Homo sapiens: one gene and its partners. The protein of the gene in region 7 purifies or fractionates together with the protein of the main gene of each other region. This does not show direct contact. Each region holds a gene or a part of one and is shown on either strand. Other genes may lie near its edges. The genes, in order: SUSD1, CACNA2D1, ATRNL1, NRP2, TCTN2, CTBS and DEFB135.

The links.
Region 1: the proteins of DEFB135 (region 7) and SUSD1 purify together in Homo sapiens (affinity purification with mass spectrometry; one large-scale study listed by BioGRID and IntAct). This does not show direct contact.
Region 2: the proteins of DEFB135 (region 7) and CACNA2D1 purify together in Homo sapiens (affinity purification with mass spectrometry; one large-scale study listed by BioGRID and IntAct). This does not show direct contact.
Region 3: the proteins of DEFB135 (region 7) and ATRNL1 purify together in Homo sapiens (affinity purification with mass spectrometry; one large-scale study listed by BioGRID and IntAct). This does not show direct contact.
Region 4: the proteins of DEFB135 (region 7) and NRP2 purify together in Homo sapiens (affinity purification with mass spectrometry; one large-scale study listed by BioGRID and IntAct). This does not show direct contact.
Region 5: the proteins of DEFB135 (region 7) and TCTN2 purify together in Homo sapiens (affinity purification with mass spectrometry; one large-scale study listed by BioGRID and IntAct). This does not show direct contact.
Region 6: the proteins of DEFB135 (region 7) and CTBS purify together in Homo sapiens (affinity purification with mass spectrometry; one large-scale study listed by BioGRID and IntAct). This does not show direct contact.

What each region holds. Positions count from the first base shown.
Region 1 is NC_000009.12:112,172,498-112,176,567, forward strand, and holds the start of SUSD1 (sushi domain-containing protein 1 isoform 2 precursor), read right to left. Parts: upstream 2,801-4,070; 5' UTR 2,739-2,800; coding exon 2,636-2,738; intron 1,517-2,635; exon of another isoform or gene 917-1,516; intron 1-916.
Region 2 is NC_000007.14:82,440,978-82,445,025, forward strand, and holds the start of CACNA2D1 (voltage-dependent calcium channel subunit alpha-2/delta-1 isoform 1 preproprotein), read right to left. Parts: upstream 2,801-4,048; 5' UTR 2,483-2,800; coding exon 2,388-2,482; intron 1-2,387. UniProt on the Homo sapiens protein: The alpha-2/delta subunit of voltage-dependent calcium channels regulates calcium current density and activation/inactivation kinetics of the calcium channel. Plays an important role in excitation-contraction coupling.
Region 3 is NC_000010.11:115,946,432-115,949,499, reverse strand, and holds the end of ATRNL1 (attractin-like protein 1 isoform 1 precursor), read right to left. Parts: 3' UTR 501-3,068; downstream 1-500. UniProt on the Homo sapiens protein: May play a role in melanocortin signaling pathways that regulate energy homeostasis.
Region 4 is NC_000002.12:205,741,501-205,745,000, reverse strand, and holds part of NRP2 (neuropilin-2 isoform 2 precursor), read right to left. Parts: intron 1,799-3,500; coding exon 1,449-1,798; coding exon of another isoform or gene 1,422-1,448; exon of another isoform or gene 1,303-1,421; intron 1-1,302.
Region 5 is NC_000012.12:123,674,113-123,677,612, reverse strand, and holds part of TCTN2 (tectonic-2 isoform 1 precursor), read right to left. Parts: intron 1-3,500.
Region 6 is NC_000001.11:84,557,441-84,560,940, forward strand, and holds part of CTBS (di-N-acetylchitobiase precursor), read right to left. Parts: intron 1-3,500. UniProt on the Homo sapiens protein: Involved in the degradation of asparagine-linked glycoproteins. Hydrolyze of N-acetyl-beta-D-glucosamine (1-4)N-acetylglucosamine chitobiose core from the reducing end of the bond, it requires prior cleavage by glycosylasparaginase.
Region 7 is NC_000008.11:11,981,010-11,985,055, reverse strand, and holds DEFB135 (beta-defensin 135 precursor), read right to left. Parts: upstream 2,801-4,046; 5' UTR 2,736-2,800; coding exon 2,672-2,735; intron 636-2,671; coding exon 466-635; downstream 1-465. UniProt on the Homo sapiens protein: Has antibacterial activity.

The DNA of each region.
Region 1 (4,070 bases), on a different chromosome or scaffold from region 7:
TTGTCAACTTCAAGGTTTCAAGCAACCATCAAGTCTATTGATTTCATCTCTCCAAATCCATAACAGCACCTCAAATTCAGGATGTCCAAAACAACTAATCATCTTTCTTTCCAAATCTTTCTCCTTCCGTAGAAACATATACCAAGTCACCCAGCCCCCAAGCCTTAGTGTCATCTTTCCCCTTCTGTTCCCTTGCACCTTCATATCTGTTATTAAATCCTTCCTTCCAGTCCATTTCCACCTTACTGTCTACATTCAGTCCGTTTCTGCTGTCATTACTGTGGGCCCAGTCCTCAGAACTTCCAGGCCAGCTATTGCAACAACTTCCTCAATGGGCTTGTCCAAGCCTCCAGTCTTTCCCTACATTGTCGACTGTCAGGAAACCTGCCCTTCATAAAACCAGGTTCTCCAAGGTTGAACATGAAGGGAGAATGTCTAGATAAGGAGAGGGGGCTCAACCAGGAAGCCTTGACTTCTGTTTCCCCAAATTCACCCCCAAAACCTTTAGTTACAGATGACCTTACGTAGCTACTAGCTGTGTTCAGCCATCTTAGTCTAACAATTCAATGGGATCATACTGGACAGTTTCCTACCTTAGAGATATCACAGGAAGATCCTGAAATAGACGCCAAGCATCTGCAAGTCCTATGCGCACTGTTCTCGGAGATAGAGCCAAGGAAGGAATCTTAACCAGGGCACCTAATATTACAAAAATGGCCACTCCAGAAGATCAAGCCATTGAAATACCCATCAGGCATGGTAAAAGTCCCAAGCCAAAGAGAATGGGGGTGGGGGCGGCAGGCAGGATTCTCAACCACAAGTCTCCTTGTATGTCATCACATGGAAATTTCCTTCCACTTCAGGATCAGCGTTTGGTTTTAGTAAGGAAGATGGGGGTTCCTTAGACCCTCTTTCCCCCGCCTCAAGTTTACTTATACAAATAGCAAAGGAGGACATCAGCCCCATGCAGATGGCAGTCCAAGGGGGACAATCCTTCTGTCCTCACGTTGGCAGACACAGATCTCTACTCTGAAGGCTTTGTAGGGGCCTGAGCTCCTTCGGGAGTCTGAGCTGGAACTGAAGCTGGAGCTGCAGCCTGAGCCTTGGTTTGATCCTTGACCTTGGTCTTTGGCTGGCACAGCCTGAGCCCCTTGGCAATGCGGGCACGAGCACGTTTCCCAAGCTTGAGGTGGGCAACGTAGGCAAGAGCTGACACCCTTTGGAATCTTGGGCTTAACCTCCTTGGGGTTTATGAGGGCAAGGCCTCAGCACGTGCACTCATGGCCTTGGCACTGTCGCCCTGCATCTTCTTTAGGCCCCTCTTATTGTGCTTCTTGGCAAACCGCATGTTTGTCAGGAACTTGGGGTCCACCCCTTTAAAAGATTCGTATCTTTGTGATCCGGGTTTCATGATGCCGTTTCTGTGCCATTTTCGGGACTGGTTGTGTGTGGTGTGGTGCTTGGATTTGGCCATGTCTGCACTGTAACCTGTGGCTCCCGAAGCGCCTAGAACTGGCTAGACCCACTTTTCTTGTCACTCCCTGAGACGGCTTCCAGTGGCTTCCAGGCACAGCTAAGTCCAAAGGCCTAGGTCTGCCAATCAAGGCACTCTGCCCTCTGCCTCTGGTGCCTCCGTGTGCTTCCTTCCCTTCTCCCCCGGGCCTGAATTCTGAAGGAATTCATTCATTCTACACTCATTTGTGGAGAGGTGACAGTGCCTTCTGCTATGAGCTGGGATACCTTTTTCACATTTTCCCATATCCAAATATGACCAATCATTGATGGCCCAGCTCAAGGGTCACCACCGATTCCCCTTTCCCTGCCCTCACCACCCACACCTTCTCATGGCACCCATGCCATTCTGCCTTGTATTACAGTTATGTGGATGAATGTCACCTCCCCTGCGTGTCTGAATCCTCTGTGTAATTCCTACTCAGCTCAACACTGCATTTTGCAGAGGAGGAAAAACAACTCCCTCGATTGCTTGGAAATAGAACATTTGCTGGTCTAAATCCTCCAGACAATGAGCTCCACGAGGGCCCGCACTGCCCGCCCTCATCGCGCACAGGGAAGCTGTTCAAGGGCCATCTGTTGAATGAATGAGTGAATTAATGGCTTCACTCCTGTACTCTTCCTTACGCGTCTTTCTCACCATATTTAGCATCCGGCTCTCTAACAACGTGAAAAAATTAAAAGTGGTAAGAAAATTGCTTCGGGTCAAAAATGTGTCATGCAAAAGCCACCGCAGAGCCGGAAGCGTGACAGCGCCGCAGAACGCCCTGGCCTCCCCGCCCTTCCCCGGGCGCCGCCCTGCCCGGGTCCGCGCTCGCGCCCAGCCCCCACCCCGCCTCCTGGGCAGTGGAGGTCCCTGGGGGCCCGGCCAGGCCGCCTTAAAACCGGCGTCCCCCGGCGTCGCGGGGTCGGGCGGGGGCAGGGAAGCCCGGCGGGGAGCCCCCCGCTTCTCTGAGCTCCTCCTTGCCGATCTCCAACGGCCGGCGCGGGCCCCACCTGCGCCCCACGCCTCGGCACCGCGCCGGCCCGGCCCAGGGGCGGGGAAGCGTCCGTGCGCCCAGAGTCCTCGAGGCCCAGCCGGGGGCCCCGCCGGCCGCCCGTGCCCGTCCCAGCCCGCACTCACCGTCGGGGCCCGGCGCTCCCGCGGCGCCGCGGGCCAGGCCGAGCAGCAGCAACAGCGGCAGCAGGCGGCGAGACGGGCCCGCATCCCAGGGCCCCCGGCCCATGCCGCCGCCGGTCCCTCCCGGCGCGCCCGCGCCTCCTCCCGGGGCCCTCAGGGTGCAGAGATAAGGCTACAGGCGCCGCGGGGAGGGGACCAGCCGGCGGCTTCCGGCGCCGCCGAGGGAAGCGGGGGGCGCTGCGGGGTCCCCGGGAGGCCGCAGAGCGCGGGTCCTTCCTCTTGTCGGGGCCTGGGCTTAGGACACGCCCGTTCCGCGTCCGTCTCTGGCTCCGCACTTGCTGCCCTCTCGCCGCTCACATTCGCAAAGGGGGACAGACACTCATCGGATAATGACACAGCTGGACGCAGAGCCCCGGAGAGTGCTGGGGAGGAAATGTTGCGGAGGATTCAAGCCACTCGAGGGCTCAGGGAGGCACCCCCGGGGAGAGGGGTGAGGGGAGCAAGGGGCGGAAATCTTCCAGGACGTGAAAGGGAGCTGGATGAGGTGACCACAGCGCAAGGCCCAGATGAGAGGTCGGAAGACGCAGACCCAGGCCACCCAGGGGCGACACACTTGACCAGGTGACACCTGGTCACCGGGAGTGAGAGAGAGTAGGGCTGTGATGGAGGGAGGGGCTGGCATCAGTCCCCGCTGCTCTGAGGACACCCGGCTTGGGACGCGCTGATGCCAGCCCCTACCTCCATCACAGCCGTACTCATCCCAAGGGAAGGAGTAAACCAAGACCCAAGGATGAGAAGGACGTTGGGGAGGAATCTAAGCGGGAGTTTGTTGTAGAAATGGGGAATGGGGACCTAGAGTGAGAGCAGAGGGTTGGAGAGGGGCGTTGAGCTGCAGAGGGAAGTTAGCCCTCCTAACCCAAGTGATGGAGGTCGCCGGGAAGCTGTCACAGTTTCAAGCAGTGAATGACTTCATCACTGACACATCTCTGTCTGTTCTGTGGAATTGGGATTGGGGTTGGGTTGGGATGTGGAAGGCAAAGAGTCCAGCCCGGAGTTGCTGCAGGAATCAGGCAATAGAAGACATGTCCTGGCCCGGTGCGGTGGCTCACGCCTGTAATCCCAACACTTTGGGAGGTCGAGGCGGGTGGATCACTTGAGGTCAGGAGCTCGATACCAGCCTGGCCAACTTGGTGAAACCCCGTCTCTACTGAAAAAAAAAAAATTAGGTGGGCACGGTGGCAGGCACCTGTAATCCCAGCTACTCGGAAAGCTGAGGCGAGAGAATTGCTTGAACCCAGGAGGCGGAGGTTGAAGTGAGCCGAGCTCGCACCACTGCACTCCGGACTGGGCGACAGAGTGAGACTCCATAGACAGATAGATAGATAGATAGATAGATAGATAGATAGATAGATAGATAGATAGATAGACAGACAGACAG
Region 2 (4,048 bases), on a different chromosome or scaffold from region 7:
ACCCAAAAATATTTACTAATGATTCCGAGAGAAATTTACATACAGAAGCATAATAATTTGCCTTTATTGACACTACAGTCTTTGCACTCAGTTTTTATAAATTTGAAATTTTCCCCCAAAGATTTGAGATTTGTCCTGATTAAACAGTGCATATGAATTCTTTTCTCGAAAGAAAAGCAAATGGCACATCTTTATGAAAAATATTGCATTTTTTAATTTCATAAAGTTTATTCAGAAATCTAACATGAAGTACAAATGTCAACCATCAGTTCTTTCCTCAGAAGACAGTGTTACTAACTTTTCAAATGAAAAACTGAAGATGCAGAAGGCTTCCAAAAATATTGTTAAGATTACCTACAGGAGATTGACTTCGCTCCACAAAACCTTTTATTAAGTATTTCATTCATTAAATAATCAATGTCTTATATAATTTGAAAATATCTTGAATTTTCATCGTTAAAAAAAATTTCAGATCCTTCCAAAGAAAAGAAATTGTGATGTCCTACTTCCCATTTTAACCCACTATATATACTCTTTCTTGTGTCTAGTAAATTTCTGACCATGAAAATTGATTTACTTATAATTTTAGGAAAGCATTATTGCAGATGTTCTTCTTAACAATAAGGATTTTTACATTAATATTTTACCACAGTATGTTGAGGAATAAAAGGTTGTATTTTGTTGTAGTTTTCCCCAATGGTATGATGATGTATCCCCTCCCATGATAAAAATATTGATAAATTGTCAGTTAAAAACAACACTGTAAAAATGAGTAATCGGAACACATTTAGGAAGTGATTGTTTTTTAAAGAGCCACTTATTTATTTGACACAGAATGCAAGCGACTCATTTGAGTTCTCACTTTACAGGCCAAGCAACAAACAGACTTAAAAAATTAAATGGAAGTGTGATGCCTTAATAAGAGTAAATAATTCTGAAGCATCCTTAGGGTGATTCTTACTCTTTTTATGTTTAAAAATATCTGACTGGAACATCCTGCCAATTAAACGAAGATCTCCAGATGGCATTTACCCTTTTGCTTCATAACAAAAAGGATCTGCAATCAGTTTTATGGAAGATTATCTAAAGAGGAACATTACTGTAACTCAATGACAACAAAAATTAGACACTCCCCTTCTCCGGGATAGAATGTGCATCCTCCAGATTCTTGCACTGACACCTAAGGTAATAAATACTTAAAACTGAATCTTAAATAATAGCCGCAGGATTTCAACCGCTAAAGATTCACTGTTACTTTCCACCAAAAACTCCTGTATTCAGCACTCAGCCAACAAAGGACAGCAAGTAATTCCCAGCAGCATAAATACCGGGAAAGCTACCTTGGGCTTTGTTTTTGTTATGTAAAATGCATTAAAGTGACTCATCCACTTAAGATTACCTACCTTTAGAAGCTTTAAAGAAGCTCCAAGAACCAAAATAAATGCTTTCCCAGAATGCCGGATAGGCTATTCGGTGCATTAAAAAATATGTATATATTTATATGTGCCATTGAGTTTGATTCTATTTTGCTAAGAAAGGAGAGAATTATTATTTTTCATTCCCTTCCTGTGGTGTGACTATAGCTACCTATAAGCCCTCTATTTCCAGAACAGCAGCGAGGTTTTTAAAAGTTATTTTAGAAATGGTAAAAATAAAAGAAAATTTGTAGGAGACTGGAAATAGTCCCTCCTTCAAAGAATAGGCTCTATTCATTTGAAGAACAGGGACCGCGTGTCTGCCGACACTTAGATGTTTCAAATAATGGGTTGGGGAGGTTGGATCGCGTGGTCCCAGTACCTGCGAGCCCCCTGCGTGGACAGCACGCTCGGCCGCGGGGAGCCAGCACGCGTCTAATCGGAAGGCTGTCAAGTGCATCCAGTAACGTGGGATAAAACGAGTTTGGGCACTACAGCAATTAAAGAGCATCTCCGAGGCCAAGTGCGGGGGAAGTCCACGCTACCTCGGCAAGCCTGAAATTACCTGTTTGTAAATTACCCAACCAAAACATAACTTTTTATTGAACTGGGTTGAATCAGAGCGGGTGAGCTGGCTGGAAACTTTTTTCCCCAGTACGGCTGCACTCTGAAGTCTAGAGAATCCCGTTAGAGACGGGCTGAGACGCCGCGAGTCGTCGGCGGGCGCTTCCCGGGACAGTCGGCCCCCAGTGCCCGGCCCCGTGGAGGCGCCCGAGACGCCGGTTCGGGACGCATTCCAGCGGCGAGCGGCGCGCACCGCCTGCCCGGCGTCTCCGCATCCGAGCCTGGCTCCCCGGCCGCTCGCTCCCCACCCCCACGGGCGGAAAAGCCCCGCGACTCGGGAACCGACCCCCACCCCCAACTCCCGCGGCGCCCCTCGGCCGGCGCTCCCTGCCCGGCCCGCCGACTTACGTGACGGCCGAAGGGAACGGCTCCTCCGACGAGGGGCCGATGAGCAAAGATTGGAAAAGTGTCAGAGTCAAGGCCAGCAGGCAGCCAGCAGCCATCTTCGCGATCGAAGATCAATGCCCCCTCCCTGCCCAAGCGGGGGAAGGAGCGGCGCTGGAAACCGCGGGCGGAGGAAGAGCAGCACACGCCGCCGGGACCGCGGGCGTCTGGAGGGCTGGCTGCGCCCGGGGCCCGAGGCGCGGAGCCGCGCGGGGGACGGCAAGGGCGGGAGCGGACGCCGAGGAAGGGGCGGTGGCGGGCGGACCCACTAGCGTGCGTCGGCTGCTCCGCGCCGCGGCCGCCTTGCCTCCGCCGCCATCAAGGGCGACTTTGGAAACAGACCTCGGCGAGCCCGCCGGCGCTCGCGCGCTCTCGCTCTCCCTCTCGGTTTCCTCCCTGATTTATTCCCCCGATTGCCGAGGCGAAGGCGGAGGCGGGGGCGGGGGCGGAGGAGGGGTGACGGCGCTGGAGGGTGGGGGTGGCTGCAGGAATCGGGGAATGGCAGGCAGAGAGACTTGTGGAAGCGAGAGGCTCCGTCTGGCTTCTTAGGCAAGTCAGAGGGAGGCGGCTGGGGGTGGGCAGCGGGAGGGCTGGGCGTCAGAGCAGTCGGGCGGAGACGGGCCGGGAGCAGCCCTCCATACAAGGCAGCCAGGAACTCCCAAAGTCGGCGCCGGCTCGCTCCCGCCGCCCGGCGTGCGCAGGCGGAGCGGACCAGCCCCGCGGGGCTCCCGGGGGACGGCCAGCCGCCCAGCGGGCATCCACAGGCTGCAGAGGCTCCAACCCAGGACTTGGCTCGCGTCTTCGGGGGTTATTTTTGCACATGCAGGCAGCGTTCCCCCCCAGCCCTACTCCCAGGCGCAGAATCCAGTGCCTGCCTGGGAATCGTGAAGTGATTTGACAACAAATGTAGGAGGGGTTTGTATTGCATTTTAAAGCACCACTGTTGACTCTCTACCAGGTGGCACTATATGCCCGCGTGTGCCATAGGTTAGAGCCTCTGCCGGGGCTGGGTGCCCTTTGTGCCAGCGGTCCCACGCCCAGGTACTGCTCGGCTCACCTGGCGAGGACAGAGCCTCAGGGACCGGGCTGTGGACGGACAGAGAAGTACTGACGCTGTAAAATCTTCCCAGCCCTGTGGTTCCATTGGACAGAGGGGTGGAGGGACGAATTCTGCATCTAGGGAGGACAGTAGTAAGAGAAGCGCTTTGCAGCATCCCAGTTGGGACTACCTCCAAAAGGGTCCTAACGCCCTGCTCTGGCCACTGGCCTGCCCTGCCTGACAAGGTTACCGCAGGGTGAGCTCACTTTTGTCAATGCGAAGGCATGAAAAGGGTAAGCAGCAGGAACAGGTGGCACTCTGAGAAATGCGCCTGAAATGTAGAGGAGGAATTAAGGGAGGGGGAGAGAGCTAGGGAGTAGCAATGCCGGACTGGTTTTATCTCCAGACTCAGAGGAAGCAGTGGCGGGCTTTCTCCTTGAAAAGACAGGGTCTGCGACTAGGCCTCTCCCGCCCAACACAGGCCTCCTACAAGAGGGCCCTGGTGGGCCAAAGATAGAAATATATTCTTGCACACCTTAAATTCTTAAGCTCCCTCTAGTAGTGTATGAGAATACTTTTGACATGA
Region 3 (3,068 bases), on a different chromosome or scaffold from region 7:
TCTCGGTGAGACCTTACAGAGGCCTAGCAGAGCAGTGCCACTGAAAGAAGGCTGGGCCCCAGATGGCCACATAAGGACCAAGCCCAGAGCTTACCAGAGAACCTGCAGGCTTTTCCCAGAAGAGTCAGCTATGCCAGAGCTGCCCTGGTCTCAGATAGCTGACTTTTATTCTAAGTAAGAGCAATTTCTATAACACATGTCCTGTGGCGTAGACCCTCATTATAGCTAGATTCTTAGCTGCTGGGCCTTGTGAGTTTTGCCTTTAATTCTCAGGAACATTCCAAGTGCTCAGCAAGCCCCTCACAGAGAACGTACAGGAAAGGTCAATGCAAATCTGGTGAAGAGAAAAAGAGGGGGAAATGTATTTTGAATGTCAAAATTCAATAACAAACTATATAATCACCTCTTCGATGGAGAGGGGCTTTTTCAAGTTCTCAGAGTGCTTTTTCCTGTGTGACCACGAAAGGATAAAACACAAACAAAAACAAAACAAAACTGCATTTGGCAGTGGGGGTTGGAAGAGCCAATGTTTTTATTTAATAAAGTCCTGATTAACAGCATATTATAACATAAAATGTTGGCTTTCTAAAACGGGCTTGAACTTTTACACAATCTTTTGAACACTGGCATGCACACCTGTGTACATATATACTGATAGGAGCTCTGGTTCTAATTCTTAATTTCAAAAAATTTTGATAAAACTAAAATGTTAAATGTACACTCTAATGAAATCACTGCTATAACTAACACCAACCAGATGGCTTGTATTCCTTGGAAAATTCTTTAAAGCATTTTGAATTAGAGTAATAACTTTGTTATTTAGAGAACTCCCTCTAATGGTCGATTAAAGGCAGCACTTTGACCCAATGCAGTGTTTCCCTAATTTGCCTAATGGTAAGAAGCACTGAGGAGCTTGTTAAGAGTACTGCTCTCCAGGGCCTACCCCAGTGTTTCTGAATCTAAATCTCTAGAGGTGAAAGTGGGAATCTGCCTGAACCCAAGCAATTCCTGTAATCAGGTAAGTTTCCAAGCTCACTCTAGTATACGGCAAATGGGTTTTGAAACTCGACATTTAAAAAGACCATAGGTGGGTAGAATTAGTTCATTTGGTCAGTTTTCATTTTACAATCTTTTTTAAATATAAGACACCTTTCAAATCATAGTTTTATGTTCACTGAGAAAAGATGTATCATGTATAACCACAAAATGTAAGCACTGACCCTGTCTTGCCTAGTTTGTACGTGAAAGGTGATCATTGATGCTCTTGTCTCAATGTCATCAGTCAGTAATTTTAAGAAAAACTCTCCTAAAACTATAGATTTAAGAAGAGTTTAAGTCTTTATTGACTAAATGTCAAAGTCGTTTTGTAGAAATCCCTATATCTTAGAAATACAGGAACTTAAGTTATTCAGGGAGTCTTTTTGAAAAACCTGATTGACCTTTACCTACGACCAAAAGATGGATGAAAATTAATAGGTGGATTCATAAAACAACTGGTAGAAAAAGAGTGGCCTGGTGTCCCCACGGTTGTTAATACCAGCTACGCTGCATCAAGGTCCCACTGTGGGAGCTTTCTGTGTGTTACCATCTAGCCTCGCAATGCCTCGAAAGGTGGGCACCATTACCGCCCTTTACAGATGGAAGGCTGAGGCTTCAAAGGTGAAACTTACCCAGCACCACACACCTGAAAGCTGGGTCCAGTGCCCGTTTTCCAGCCTGTGTGCCAGTGTGCACCCTAAATGACCTTATACCATGAACTGTAGCCATACAGTCACCTCTATCTTACTGCAGCTAAAAGAAGATGAGATGTTGGGAAGTACAGCAAGGATCAATTACCTTTTTAAATACGAACTATTTGAAGTTTTCCTACTGAACATAACACTATAGTATACGGCATCTCTGTGTATCACTAAAACAAATTTTCATTTAAAGAATTATGAGAATCCTAATCCTCTTAAAATTTATTAGCTGAATCTGTAAGTATGTGCAAATTCTTTTCCAATAGGAATTTTCTAGTTCAAATAGAATCCCCAGGTTAATTTTTAAAACTCCATTGTATTTAACCATTTTTTTTTCATACTTGGCAGAATAAAACATCCTAAAAATCTAAGGAATTTTTCAAAGTCATTCTAAACTGAAATGTTTAGAATTCCATTAAGGTTAGTTTTCAAGAGGATCAGCCATTTAACTGCGAAATTCTGGGAAAGTATCTGCATATTTGTGTGGTTTGATTTAAAAAAAATGAAAGCATCCAAATTTAAAGTGTCTGGAATGTAGGGGGAAAAACCAACAGATTCAAAGTGATTATCCTTGATCCTTGATGTCTTTTCAATCCACTTCACCTGAGGGCAAAGAATTTACTGCCAGTGAAAAGCTTTGATACGTTGAGAATTAATTGCATAATTAGCCACAGAGTTAGCAATATGTGGCCCAGAAAGGTATAGCATGACTTTAACTAAACATCACATTGTGTCTCATAATTCTCTACAATTTGAATTTTCAAGTTTTAAGAACCCAGTGGGATTTGAGGTGAATAAAACTTGATAATTCTTCCACAGTAATACTATCTGCTTAGCCTCCCTAAAAATATAGCTTATATAGATTTTACATCTAAATCTGTATGTTTTTGTATTTTTATTGTTATGCTTTCTCTTGTGACAATTGTTAGAGAAATACATTGGGCAATCACTTTTTAAAAAATGATTATATCTTTGTAATCATTAGTTTCATCAATTTATTTTTTCATGAGAGAAGTCAATATTTAGAGGGTCCAAAAGAAGCTAATAAAATTACTTGATTGTTTTTAGGAGATATTTACAAACTTAGCTCATTCCTTTAATGAGAGAGAAAATATCACAGGGAAGTAGAAACAACCAGTGGCCTCCCCCTCCAAAAAAACCCCACAGATTATAGATAAAATTACTAAAATTACTCTAAGAATTTGTCTTATTTTTAATGCATGGAAAATAGCAAAATTATCATGCCAACATGAGGAATATATACTATAATTCATAAATGCCTAATTATCAAAATAATGACATAGTCATGGTTAGATGCAACCTAGAAAT
Region 4 (3,500 bases), on a different chromosome or scaffold from region 7:
GACCGCTCCAGTTTTCAGGATGCCCTGCGTCCACAATTCTGAACCAGAAGCACTGTCTCGGATAGGGCTGTCTCCCACAATGGCAAAGATCAACTTCTTTCCCAAGAAAAACCAGGCTCAGCTCTCCATGGGGAAGCCTGCGGTCCAACTTCTGCTCCATCGATGCAAGGTTCCAGTTACCAAGCCCTGAGCCTTTCTAAGCCTCTGGAGTTGAGAGCTGGGAGTTTACCTCAGCATCGCAAAACCTCCAACCCAACTCTTGCCTCTGTATTCAGAATGGAGACATTTGCTTAGCAAAGGTGGCCCCGAGACATGCAAACTCCCTCCTTTTTTAGGGACCTGTTCTTTTGAGAAAAACAAGGGGTAACTAGAGATAAGAATCAGAGAGCCTGGCCTGCCAGGAGACTGATCTGGGGAGGGACAGAGGTATGACGTCTCCTCCCCTTCTGGGGCTCCTTGTGTCTGTGTTGAAGGCTGACCTTCACTCTGGTGGCAGGGGAGTAAGCTGTACTGGCCTGAGCTTCTGGCTCGGGGTGAGTTTCTCTTGCTTCTCCCTTGCCTCAGTCTGAGAGGCCGGAAAGATCTAAGCAGTCAAAACTAGGAGAATACAAAGGAATGCAGCGACATTCAGAAAAACATCGTTATTTTTGGAAGTCATCCTCTAGTTTCTATAGCTTGGCCTCCAAAAACCACATCCCCTTTAGATGTCTGGCCAATTTCAAGGAAACTTTATCTGAAAGAGTGTATAAAGAGTGTTGAACTTTATAAAAAGGCAGTGTTCAGTAGGGGTTAGGCATCTGGACTTTGGAGTCAGACTTCCGGTTTCTGAATCGGCTCTATCACAGGTGAACTGTGTGACCCTGGGCATGATATCAAGTGTCAGTTTATCATCTCTAAAATGGGAGTGACAAAAAGATCTACTTTGCACAGATGTTGTAACGATTAAAAAAGAGTCCAGGCCGGGCGCGGTGGTTCATGCCTATAATCCCAGCACTTTGAGAGGCCAAGGCAAGTGGATCACTTGAGGTCAGGAGTTCGAGACCAGCCTGACCAATACGGTGAAACCCCATCTCTACCAGAAATACAAAAATTAGCTAGGTGTGGTGGCGGGCACCTGTAATCCCAGCCACTCAGGAGGCTGAGGCTGGAGAATCGCTTGAACCCTGGAGGCGGAGGTTGCAGTGAGCCGAGAACAGGCCACTGCACTCCAGCCTGGGTGACAGAGACTCCATCTCAAAAACAAACAAACAAACAAACAAAAGAGTCAGAAATAAGGTATTTAGCACAGTGCCTGGCACAAAGTAATCTCTCAAACGATATTTGTTTTATTGGATTTCAGGAGTTGGATGACGACTGTTTAGATGGGACATCATCAGTCTCAACTCCCTGTACCACACTTAGCCTCCCTGTTGAGGGTAACGTTACAGAGGCCTCCAAGAACAGCCTACCTTTGGCTGCTGGGTCCTGGGGTCCTGAATGTATTCCCAGTCCTTGCCGTTTAGGCTGTAGGAGACTTTGAACTTGCGCACAAATGCTCTGGCTTCCACAGCAGTGATACTGTCTCCTCCGCGGGCTCCCTGGATGATGACACCTTTCACTGTCTTGGGTGTTCCCAGATCTACCTGAAGCCACTCCTCACCGGGCTGGGCCTGAGGGATTCGAGGGAACCAGCCCGAGCGGCTGCTAACCAGGCGGGCTGCACTGGGGCTCCAGAGGTATTCCTGGGTGGAAGAGGCGGAGATCTGGGAGTCTGCAATGAGGCCTGAGAGCATCCCCAGCATGTTGGAGCAGGGAGCATCTGCAGAGAGGAGAGGAAGATACAAGAGGTCATGGCTGACACCTGCTAACCAGGGACCACCCGCTATAAGAAGGGAGCTGCAAAAGAGCCCAACTGTCAAATACTAAGTCAGCACTAATTTCTTTGCATGGTGAATGTGTACAGCACTGTGGTTAAGAGCCTGGACTCAGAGCTAGACTGCCTGTGTTCATGTTCACTCTGCCACTTACTAGTCAGAGGGCCTTGGGCAAATTATTTAATTGCTCTTTGCCTCAGTTTCCTTAGATCTAAAGGGGAGCTAATAGAGGTGCCTACCTCTTGAGGGCTGTTGCAAGGATTCTGTTAGTTACTAAGAGCTCACAGGATGGTGCCTGGCATATTTAAGTATCCAATGGCCATTAACTATTTGTGCTTACAGCTCTAACCAAGGACTCTCAGAATGTGTGTCTGCACATCCCTGTCGATGACACTAGTCCCCACTGACCCTATCAGGGACACTGAGAACAGGGGAACTGAGCTAAACATTGAATTATTTCCTAGTAATTGTTTTGCCAAGTAGAAGGAAACCTTCCTGGCATCAGTATCAGGTCTTTACTTCCCAAATAACTGCTCTTTACTGCCTTGGATCCTTCCCACATGCTGTTCCCATTACCCCAAATGCTTTTCCCTTCAGTCACCCCCAGACTAACATTTTCTTACCCCCAAGCTCAAGTGTCATATCCACAGAAAAGCTGTTCCCAAATTTTCAATCCTCACTAAATTGGTTTCCCTCAGAGCACCCTGTTCTTTTCCTTCATGTGCACATTCTAGTTTATCCAGTACTTGCATTTGTTTATTATCTATCTTGCTCAGTAGCCTGAAAGTTCTACGATGTCAGAGACCCCATCTATTTTGTTCCTGTCTCTATGTCCCATTCCCAGTGTGTGCCTGGCACATCAGATGTGTGGAACAAATGATTGAGTGGAGAATGCATGAATAAATGATGTCAGGCAAGGCAGGGTCTATAGTCAATGTGCATTTCATACTTGCAAACTGAGCTATGGATAAAAAAGATCCTCCACGTTGTTCCCCTTCTTCAAAATCACTGGTTCTCTCCTTTCAATCTTCCAGAGAATGACCTCTACCTAAATCTTTGCTGATTATCCTGGAACAGCAACAGGGAAGGGACAGAAAATAGTCCCCTAGACAGGATTAGCATAAACTGATCCCATTAGAAGAAAATGGGTCTTTGTGTAAATGTGGTAAGAGCAGAGAATTTGAATTGAGAAAACGTGGGTTCAGATCCTGGCTCTGTCACCTCCTAGTTGAATGACTTTGGGCAAGCTATTTAGCCTCTTTGAGTCTTGGTTTCCTTATCAGTCCCTGGCCCACCTTACCTCACAGGGTTGTTAGAAAGTGTAGGCAAGATGATAAACAAGAAAGGCATGTGGAGATGCAGAGACTGTACAAACACAAGGTGTTTTAACTAGAAACCTCAAACAGGGTCAGACCTTGGAGCACTCCCTGTCAGAGCTGGAATGATTAGGGGAAAGGCACGTGGATGGATGTACACTGAAGACACTTCCAGGTCAAAGAGGCAACTTGCCTGCCCTGGGCTGAGCCCACAAGATAAAGGGGATTGGTCTGTCCATAAATTTCTGGGGCTAATCCAGCCATCATCATCTCCCATCTGCACCCCCTGCATTGCCTCCTATAATGTCCCAACTCCCACTCTGGTCTTCTC
Region 5 (3,500 bases), on a different chromosome or scaffold from region 7:
CTCTTCAGGATATTACAGGTTTCCGAACTTGTTTTCCTCTTTGAAGAGGAATATGTTACACGACATTTCAGCCTCCTAACTCAGAATCCAGTGACAGTAATGCTTTGGATTTCTCTCCAATCATTTATCAGATAAAAGTTTCATTCTGCTGAATTTTACTTTTGCATTTGGTACACGTTAGAAAACCATGCAGGAACTATTTGTTTAAACCCCACATAACAGTTAACTGTAATGACACAATAGCTGAAGTATCTAAAGAACAACTAACGATCTGTTCTATCCTGTAACATAGCAGAAGGTCAATGATACATCAATGGTATCCGGAACAAGGAGAAGGTCCACATCGCAGACCACGTTACACGGGTAAGGGTCTGACCCTCAGTGTTATCAAACCCATGTGACACAAGCAAGGCACTTTATTGATTTTTTTTTGAGACAGGGTCTCACTCTGCTGCCCAGGCTGAAGTGTGAAATGGCACAATCACAGCTCACTGCAGCCTCAACCTCCCAGGGCTCAAGTGATCCTCCCACCTCAGCCTCTCAAGTAGCTGGGACCACAGGTGTGCACCATCATGCTCAGGTAACGTTCATATTTTCTGTAAAGACAGGGTCTCACTATGTTGTCCATGCTGGTCTCAAACTCCTGGGCTCGAGTGATCCTCCCATCTTGGCCTCCCAAAGTGCTGGAATTACAGGCATAGTACATGAGCCACCACCCCCAGCCACGAGACACTTCAGAATAGGGTTTTACTATGTGTTATACAAATAGATGTTTGTGTGTTGATTTATGTTTTCTACATTGTTCGCTGGCTTCATTGTTACTGGGTATGACACATACCTCCTGTCTGTGCTTCCATTCTTTTTCTAGTTTTAATCGCTGGCTGGCTGAGTAAAAAATTTTTCATGCCTTCATGGGGTCAGAGCTGACAACTCAATCACTCATATACAAAGATGTTCAATTTTCTAAGTTTGGTATTCTAAAATATTAAATATTACCTAAATATACTGAAGCATATTTTCCTTTTTTTTTTTTTTTTTTTTTTTTTAGATGGAGTCTCGCTCTGTCACCCAGGCTGGAGTGCAGTGGTGTGACCTTGGCTCACTGCAAGCTCCACCTCCCGAGTTCACGCCATTCTCCTGCCTCAGCCTCTCGAGTAGCTGGGACTCCAGGCACCCGCCACCATACCCGGCTAATTTTTTGTATTTTTAGTAGAGACGGGGTTTCACCGTGTTAGCCAGAATGGTCTCGATCTCCTGACCTCGTGATCCGCCCACCTCAGCCTCCCAAAGTGCTGGGATTACAGGCGTGAGCCACCGCGCCCGGTCTTTTTTTAGAGACAAGGTCTTGCTCTGTCGACCAGGCTGGAGTACATGGAGCAATCCTGGCTCACTGCAGCCTCCACCTCCTGGGCTCAAGCGATCCCCCGACCTCAGCCTCCCTCATAGCTGGGGCTACAGGCACCGACTACCACGCACAGCTAATTGTAGTATTTGTTTGTAGAGACAGGGTTTTGCCATGTTGCCCAGGCTGGTCTTGAACTCCTAGGCTCAAGTGGCCCACTCACCTCAGCCTCTAAAAGTGTTGGGATTACAGGCATGAGCCACCACCTGGCCTCAAGCATATTTCTCAAAGGAAAAAAGTCAGTGCTTTGAATGGTACAGCTATCATGAATCCCTTCTGTTGTTTTGGGGGGATTTTTTTTTTCATCATTGAATACGGTTTTTTTGGCTTTGTTTTGAATTTTAAGCCATAGAAAAATTTAAAACTTTTAAGTGGGTAACACATTTGCATGGTTCCAAAAAATCAAAAGCATATTAAAAAATTCCTCACTGTCAGCCCTTTCCTGTTCCCACATCATCCTCCAACTTGGTAGCACATTATTAGCTTCTCCAACATCCTTCCAGAATTTCTTTATGCAAATGTTTTCATTTCTGCCTCCTTTATGCAAAAGATAGCACACTGTAGGCAGCCATCTGCACTTGCTTTTTTCACTTCATTCATCATGGAGGCCTTTCCATGCAAGTACACTGAGGGCACAGTAGTCTGCTGAAAGGAGCTGTCAAAACTTGTCTTATCATCCTAAACTTCCAGAAGCACCAGGAGGACCACAGTTAGGGATGTAATAAGGGAAGCGGCAGTAAAGGAGTCTCCAGGTAACAGACTTTTGCTACTAAAGTCTGGAACGCTTCTCCCTCCATGCCACGTGGCCATAAAGGCAAGAGATGTCAGAGTTCGCCACCGGAGACAGGGGACATGGCAGTAGCACTCATCACTGCAGAGCCCTCTACATCGGCACATCTAGTTGAAAGCTCTTTTGGTTTAAGAACACTAACATCATGTGAGACGGAGATGAACACAAAACCATTTTCTCATGTCCAAAGATTCATGTACACGGGCATAACGATCTTTGCTGTAGCATCAAAAGCTGGGAACAGACCAGGTGCAGTGGCTCCTGCCTGTAATCCCAGTACTTCAGGAAGCCATGGTGGGAGGATCACCTGGGCCCAGGAGTTCAAAACCAGCCTGGCTAACATAGTGAGACCCTGTCTCTACAAAAAATGTAAAAACTAGCCAGGTGTGGTGGTGCACGCCAGTAGCCCCAGCTACTATGGAGGCTGTGGCAGGAGGATCGCCTGAACCAGGAAGGTTGAGGCTGCAGCAAGCCAGGATCGTGCCCCTGCACTCTAGCTCCAGCCTGGGTAACAGAGTGAGACCGTGTCTCTAAAAAAAATGAAAATAAAAATAAATTTTAAAAAAAGCTGGAAATGATGTAAACTTCATCAGCCTCAAACTCCTACGCTCAAGCGATCCTCCCACCTCAGCCTCCCTAGTAGCTAGGGCTACAGGCAGGCACCATCATGCCCAGCTTTTTAAAATTTTTTATAGAGACAGTATCTGCTGTGTTGCCCAGGTTGGTCTCGAACTCCTGGGCTCAAGAAATTCCCCCGCCTTGGCCTCCCAAAGCACTTACAGTGTGGGAGCCACTGCGTCTGGCCACCCTTCCTTTTTTCTTCTTAAGATGCAGTCATGACAATCAATGCACGTGCCGAGCACAGTGGCTCACGCCTGTAATCCCAGCACTTTGGGAGGCCGAGGCAGGCGGATCACAAGGTCAGGAGATCAAGACCATCCCAGCCAACATGGTGAAACCCCATCTCTACTAAAAGTACAAAATTAGCTGGGCGTGGTAGCGTGAGCCTGTAGTCCCAGCTACTCGGGAGGCTGAGGCAGGAGAATCGCTTAAGCCCAGGAAGTGGAGGTTGCAGTGAGCCGAGATCACAACACTGCACTCCAGCCTGGTGACAGACTTAGACTCCATCTCAAAAAAAAAAGAGAGAGAATCAATGTACATAAACAAATTTCACCTTCTCCCAAAAAGGATTCAAGGTAGCTTATAAAGATGCAAACAGTAGAGAAAGATCAAATAAATGTTAAATAAAATAGTACAAAATGAAATTTCTTAAAAGAAAACTAAACAAAAGAAAAATAAGTTTAGAAA
Region 6 (3,500 bases), on a different chromosome or scaffold from region 7:
GAGAATTGCTTGAACCTGGGAGGCGGAGGGCGCAGTCAGCCGAGATCGTGCCACTGCACTCCAGCCTGGGCGAAAAGAACAAAACTCCATCTCAAAAAAAAAAAAAAAAAAAAGAAAAAAAAAAAAAGAAGGAGGCTGGGCGCGGTGGCTCACACCTATAATCCCAGCCCTTTGGGAGGCCGAGATGGGCAGATCATGAGGTCAGGAGATCGAGACCATCCTGGCTAACACAGTGAAACCCCGTCTCTATTAAAAAAATACAAAAAAATTAGCCAGGCTTGGTGGCGGGCACCTGTAGTCCCAGCTACTTGGGAGGCTAAGGCAGGAGAATGGCGTGAACCCGGGAGGCGGAGCTTGCAGTGAGCCAAGATCGCGCCACTGCACACCAGCGTGGGCGACATAGTGAGACTCCATCTCAAAAAAAAAAAAAAGAGGAAGGAAACAGTTATAACTAGATTTTTTTCTAAAGTGGCATTAAATGGCCTTCAATGCGCACCAAAATGTTTCCTGAATTCTGAGACCTAAAGAATGTGTTTCTTCATAGAAACAGAGTAAAAAGGTGGTTACCAGAGGCTGGGGGTGGGAAGAATAGATATTTCAAGACACAAATTTTCAATTAGGAACAATAAATACAAGAAATCTACTGTATCCCGTGGTAACTATAGTTAATAACAATGTATTATGTTGAAAATTCCTAAGAGAATGGATTTTAAGTGTTCTTACCATTTAAAAAATGGTATGTGAGGTAATACATATGTTAAATAACTTGATTTAGCCATTTCACAATGTATAGATATATCAAAACATCATCTTCTACACCATAAATACAGATAATTTTTGCCTGCCATTAAACTTTTTTTTTTTTTTGAGACGGAGTCTCGCTCTGTCGCCCAGGCTGGAGTGCAGTGGCGGGATCTCGGCTCACTGCAAGCTCCGCCTCCCGGGTTCACGCCATTCTCCTGCCTCAGCCTCCCAAGTAGCTGGGACTACAGGCGCCCGCCACTACGCCCGGCTAATTTTTTTTGTATTTTTAGTAGAGACGGGGTTTCACCGTTTTAGCCGGGATGGTCTCGATCTCCTGACCTCGTGATCCGCCCGCCTCAGCCTCCCAAAGTGCTGGGATTACAGGCGTGAGCCACCGCGCCCGGCCACTTTTTTTTAATTAAAAAAAAAAAAGAGGCCAAGTGCAGTGGCTCACACCTGTAATCCCAGCATTTTGGGAGGCCAAGGTGGGAGAATCACTTGAGGCCAGGAGTTCAAGACCAGCCTGGGCAATATAGAAAGACCCCGTCTCTACAAAAAGTAAAAAAATCAGCCTGGCATGATGGCACACGCCTATGGTCCTAGCTACTTGGTAGGCTGAGGCAGGAGGATTGCTTGAGCCCAAGAGGTCAAGGCTGCAGTGAGCCATGATTGTGCCACTGCACTCCATCCTGGGTGACAGAGCAAAACCTCGTCTAAAAAAAAAGAAGAATGTGTTCCTGCATTTTCACATTCATTAAGGAAAAAACAAGCCACAGATTACTAAGGTCAGGATTACAAAGAAACAGTATATGGTAGTATATACTGTCCTAAGATTCTATGTTACATATTTTTAAATTACAGGCATACCTCATTTTATTGTACTTTGCTTTATTGTGCTTTGCAGACATTAAATTTTTTGCAAATTGAAGGTTTATGGCAACTCTATTGAACAAGTCTACTGGTGCCATTTTTCCAACAGCAAGTGCTCATTTTGTGTCTGTGTCACATTTTGGCAATTCTTAAAATATTCCAAACTTTTTCATTATTATTATTATATCTGTTATGATGATCTGCAATCAGTGGTCTTTGATGCTACTATTGTAATTGTTTGTGGGCACCATGAACTGCCCATATAAGACTTAATAACAATATTTGGCTAGGCGCGGTAGCTCACGCCTGTAATGCCAACACTTTGGAAGGCCGAGATGGGAGGATCACTTGAAGTCAGGAGTTTCAAACCAGCCTGGCCAACATGGTGAAACCACATCTCTACTAAAAATACAAAAAATTAGCCGGGCATGGTAGGGCATCCCTATAACCCCAGATATTTGGGAGGCTAAGGCACGAGACTCACTTACACCTAGGAGGCAGAGGTTGCAGTGAACTGAGATTGTGCCACTGCACTCCAGCCTGGGTGACGGAGCGATACTCCATCTCAGAAAAAAAAGACTTAATAACGATATTGAAATTAGACTAATAACCTTACAATGGGAATTTTGCAATGAATAAAAAAGAGGAAGAAAATAGTTATAATTAGATTGTTTTCTGAAGTGACATTAAATGGCCTTCAAGGCTCACCAAAATGTTTCCTGAATTCTAAGAGCTTAAACAATGTGTTGGCCAGGTGCAGTGGCCCATGCGTGTAATCCCAGGCCTTTGGGAGGCCAAGGTAGGCGGATCACTTGAGGTCAGGAGTTTGAGACCAGACTGGCCTACATAGTGAAACCCCATCTCTACTAAAAATATAAAAATTAGCCCGGCATAGTGGCGGGCACCTGTAATCCCACCTATGGGGGAAGCTGAGGAGTAGAATTGCTTGAACCCAGGAGGCAGAGGGTGCAGTGAACCCAGAGGGCGCCACTGCACTACAGCCTGGGCGACAGAGCAAGACTCTGTCTCAAAAAAAAAAAAAAAAAGAAAGAAAGAAAGAAAGAAAGAAAGAAAGAAAGGAAAGAAAGAAAGAAAGAGAAACTAGAATCCCTCTTCCCTAAAATGGGTCATAGAAACTAGAGCCTCTTTTCCCCAAAACCAGCCATAAAGTCTAAAAATGTTACTCTAACCTTTCCCACCACCACCTTTCTGTGTAATAGCTGGCCATAAAGAAATTAAGACCCTCATTCCAGAGAGGTCCTACCCCATACCCATGAGAAGAAATCCTTCACAGAGAGGCCAAGAAAAATCTGAACAGACAGTCCTTGCTGAGTTTTCCCACTCAGTCTGTTTGCATTAGCTCATGCCCTTTATTCTGATCACAGTTCTACATAGCTGTCCATACTTCGTTGAACCTAAGCACAAAAATGGACAGTTTTTCCTGTATCTTTGGGTTTTCATTCTGAAACCTCCCATGTCGGGTAAAATTATGATCAAACACATTTTAAAAGGCAGAGACCCCTTTCTTCAAATAAATCTTATATTGGAAGAAGATGATGCCATTTAAGACTTTGCTAGCTAGACAGGAGAAGTCAATACCTGGCTTTAAAGCTCAAAGTACAGGCTGATTCTCTTGTTAGGGACTAATGAGGGTGGTAACTTTAAGTTGAAGCCAGTGTTCATTTACCATTCCAAAAATCCTATGGCACTTAAGAATTATGCTAAATTGACTCTGCCTGTGATCTATAAATGGAATAACAAAGCCTGGCTCACAGCACATCTGTTTACTGAATATCTTAAGCCCACTGCTGAGATGTACTAAGAAAAAAAAGAGATTTCTTTCAAAATATTACTGCTCATTGACAATGCACTTGGTCACCCAAGAG
Region 7 (4,046 bases):
GAAGACGCCAGACACAAAGGAATACCTACAATTCCATTTATATAAAGTTCAAAAATAGATGTCAGCGCCTTCCTATTAAAAGTCAGGCTAGGAATTATTTTGTGTGGAGTAGTGACTGGTAGTGCCTGGGATGTTGTAACATTCTTTTGTGGGGGCAGGATGCTGGTTACACAGGTGTGTTAAATTTGTGCAGTTCATGAGGATGTTTACTCATGATTTGTACATTTTTTAATTGTATGTTATACTTCAAAAAGTTCTTAAGAGACTTTTAAGAAGCGACAAATTAATAAAAAGAAAAATACTCAATACAAGGAATTAGAGTATTTCTGTAAGAGAGACAATAAAGAGAAATACAGCAGACACAGGAACACTGATAGGCTAAAGCCATTGTTTTAATCGAATGGTGCAACTGAGAGGGATCTGGGTTCCCAGAGGAAATCAGCAACAGCTTTCAGGTACTCACAACTATTTCCCAGTCAGTATAGGTAAATATTTTGGGTTTACACAGCACAAATGTATAGTATCACACAAAATACGATATTGTTCGTTTTTTAGACATTTTGGCCGGCAAGTACCTTGCAGTCGCCAACATGAAGCAAAGATTTTTTGTATGTAGACATTGGGTCCACTTCTACCTGCCAAGAGAAACAAAGGTTAATGCACAGTTAGTGTCCTGAAGTGTCATGTTGTCATGGATAAAATTAGACCTCAGACCATAGTTTTCACTTTTTAATAATGAATTAGACGCGATCAAAGATACTCAAGACATTTTATAGCTGGATGCCCCTTTTCAGTTGCTCTTACCTTGTTTTCCAGGGGCCCTATTATAAGCCATTATATGAATCCACAATTAGTTACATGAATTACTGATCAACTGTGTGGAGTTAACAGGACCCAGCATATTCAGCTTGAGACTATTGGCTTCAGAAAGAATATTCAGACATCGAAGTCATCCCAGGAGCCTGCAGAGGTCCCATACCAGGAGGCATGCAGGGTCTGGAATAGCTACCTGAGGCAGTTTGTGATTATCAAAGTGTCAGCATAAAGAAAGAAGGATCACTGAAGTGGAATTTTAGAAGCCTGCACTTCTACCCCTGTATTCCCCAAAAACATTCTGCATGACTTTTTGTCAAGTGCTTAATCACAAGGTACTTAAGAAGTACCCATTCTCCCATGGGTACTTTGCACCCATGGGAGAATGAGTGTGAAATGGTTTGAAATACCTGAGACAAATATGGAAATTTATTGCTAGTAATTTTTCTACACCTTAAGAACTGGGAGCCTCTGGAAACCAGAGGGTGGAGGAGGGGTAATAGGAAGGCAGTTTAAGAGGGTAAGGGTGGCCCTGAGTTGCCCCTACTGTATCACCTGCTCTTGCATGCTAAGTCTTATCAGTTTCTCCACCCAGGTGCCCCCATGAGTCCATGGATTGAACCTTTGTGGTGTGAAAATAATCAATGTGGTATGGTCAAGGGCCGTTAGCAGGCAAACTTGCCCACCATGTGCTCCCTAGACCTCAGGCACTTTTCTGGGGACAAAGGAGTCCAGTAGAGACACACTGCAAAGTGTCGGAGGTCCCACCATGCAGGACATCAGCCATCATCTCAACATGGTCCTCATTCGTATCTGTCTTCGTTTTATTTATTTTTTTTAATTTTTATTTTTGAGATGAAGTTTCACGCTTGTTGCCCAGGCTGGAGTGCAATGGCACCATCTCAGCTCACTGCAATCTCCGCCTCCTGGGTTCAAGTGATCCTCTTTTCTCAGCTTCCCGAGTAGCTGGGACAGGCATGCGCCACCATGCCCGGCTAATTTTGTATTTTTAGTAGAGACGGGTTTTCACCATGTTGGCTAGACTGATCTCGAACTCCTGACCTCAGGTGATCCACTCGACTCAGCCTCCCAAAGTGCTTAGATTGCAGGCGTGAGCCACCGCGCCCAGCCTCATATCTGTCTTTTAAACACTTCACACTTGGTCCTTGAGTGATACGCTTTATATATGAAGGTTTGAGGCAAAGGGTAGGGGCTCTCTGCTGACCCCAGAAAACCACAAGCAAAACAGTTTTGAGAACCTCCACTTTAGTGACTGAAGTAGACTCTTCTCATTATCACCAAGTTGCTGGCTTCTGTCCACAGAATGTAAATTCTGACCTCTCAAACTGATGTTTCATAGGACCTCATCATGCTATAAGTTAGTGTAATACATCTTAACCAGCTGTGTCTGTGGATTCTGCTCAGCATAAAATTTACCTTGGCTTCTAAATGAGTGAAAAATAACATGGGTGGCTGACTGTAGAAGGCAAGTTCTAAGAGCCCTCAAAGAACAGTCTCCTTCTCATCCCCAAGTCCTCGCTATTCTTTGAAAGTCTCATCTTTTTGCTCTGCCCTACTTCTGCCAGTACCAACAGTCCAGCCTTCCCCTCAAACTTCACCAGCTCCTCAAACCAAAATCCATAACCAGTTTCTTTTCTGAAGAGAGCTACCTCCTGTTCTGTGTCCTTTGGATCTTTTCTCCATTCTCTGGACCAGCCCAGCATGTCCATCTCTGCTCACTTTCCTCCCTGTTGCAGCTTCCTTTGTCCAAGTCCTGCCTTTTTCTCACTCTTGTAGAACCTCACACCTTTTTTCCCTTTACTATTCCTAATTCTACAAGGTGGGGACTCCATTTTACCTGGTGGAACATAGAAGAGTAAGTTAAGGACCACGAGGGCCAAGAGGACGCTCCTTGTGGCCATACCAATCAGCAAAGAAGCAGCTGTGACTCATCGGAGAGTCACTCTCTCCGCAGCTTTGAAGAGACGGGGAGCTGCATGGCTAGTGAACCTTTTGGAACAAGAACATCTGCCTGCTCCACTGAGCAATCCAATCAGCAAAATGTCTGTTTGAACATGACATCCCTTCATTAAAGCACACTTCCTGGGTGCCACATGCATGCTAGCAACTGCATGAACACTGTGTAGGCAGCCCTATTCTAGGCCCTGGTAGGGTGCTGTGTAGGTGTCTGTGTATCTTCATTGTACATCCACTAAAATGCCTATAGTGTGCAGAGAACCATAAGGCTGCCTTACATAGTTGACAAAGAGTTTGTTTTTTTTTTCAACCTTACACACACACGAAGTCCAGGTAGGCATGATTCTCTCCATTTTAAAAACAAAAATAAAGAGTCTCAGGTAGAAGAAATGACTTTCTCAAGCTCACATAGATCCTAAATGGTAGCAACATGATTTATAAGCAGGCTTCCCTGACTCCTATATACAGAAGTACTAAAGTATGGCCTTGCCCAGTTCTGGTATAGCTGTAATGTCTTTAGGAAAATAAGAGCTCCTCAAAAACAGCATGGAAAAAGCAAGTCCCCATAACACCCGCAACATGACCCAGGGAAAAACACTGAGTCTATGGCTCCCCATTGAGCATATGCTGTGTGCCGGGTAATGGGGGGGCATACAAAGAATTTATGACAAAAGTCTTGCTTGGAGGGACTAAAGTCGACAGTGTTTGACAGTTTTTGAAGTGTTTTAAGTTTTTCAGCAACTTTATCTGATACTGTATGAAGAACACAAAACCCAGAATCAGAAAGTCTTTCTGGTCTGGACTCTGCATGCAGTAGCTTGACAAGCTTTTAATAAAGCACGTACTTTACCTCACTGACCATCAGTTTTCTCACTTGGAAAGAAGGTTGTACACCTGGCCAGGTGCAGTTGCTCATGCCTATAATTCTAACGTTTTGGGAGGCTGAGGAAGGTGGATTGCTTGAGCTCAGCAGCTCAAGACCAGCCTGGGCAACATGGCAAAACCCCATCTCTACAAAAAATGCAAAAATTAGCCAGGCATGATAGTGAGCGCCTGTACTCCTAGCTACTCAGGAGGCTGAGGTGGGAGAATCACCTGAACCCAGGAGATCAAGGCTGCAGTGAGCCATGATTGCACCACTGCACTCCAGCCTGGGTGACACAGTGAGACTCTGTCTTAAACAACAACAACAACAAAAAATAGGTTGTACTCCATCATTCCCACCTATCAGGAAGGCTTGTCGCAAGGCCAAATGA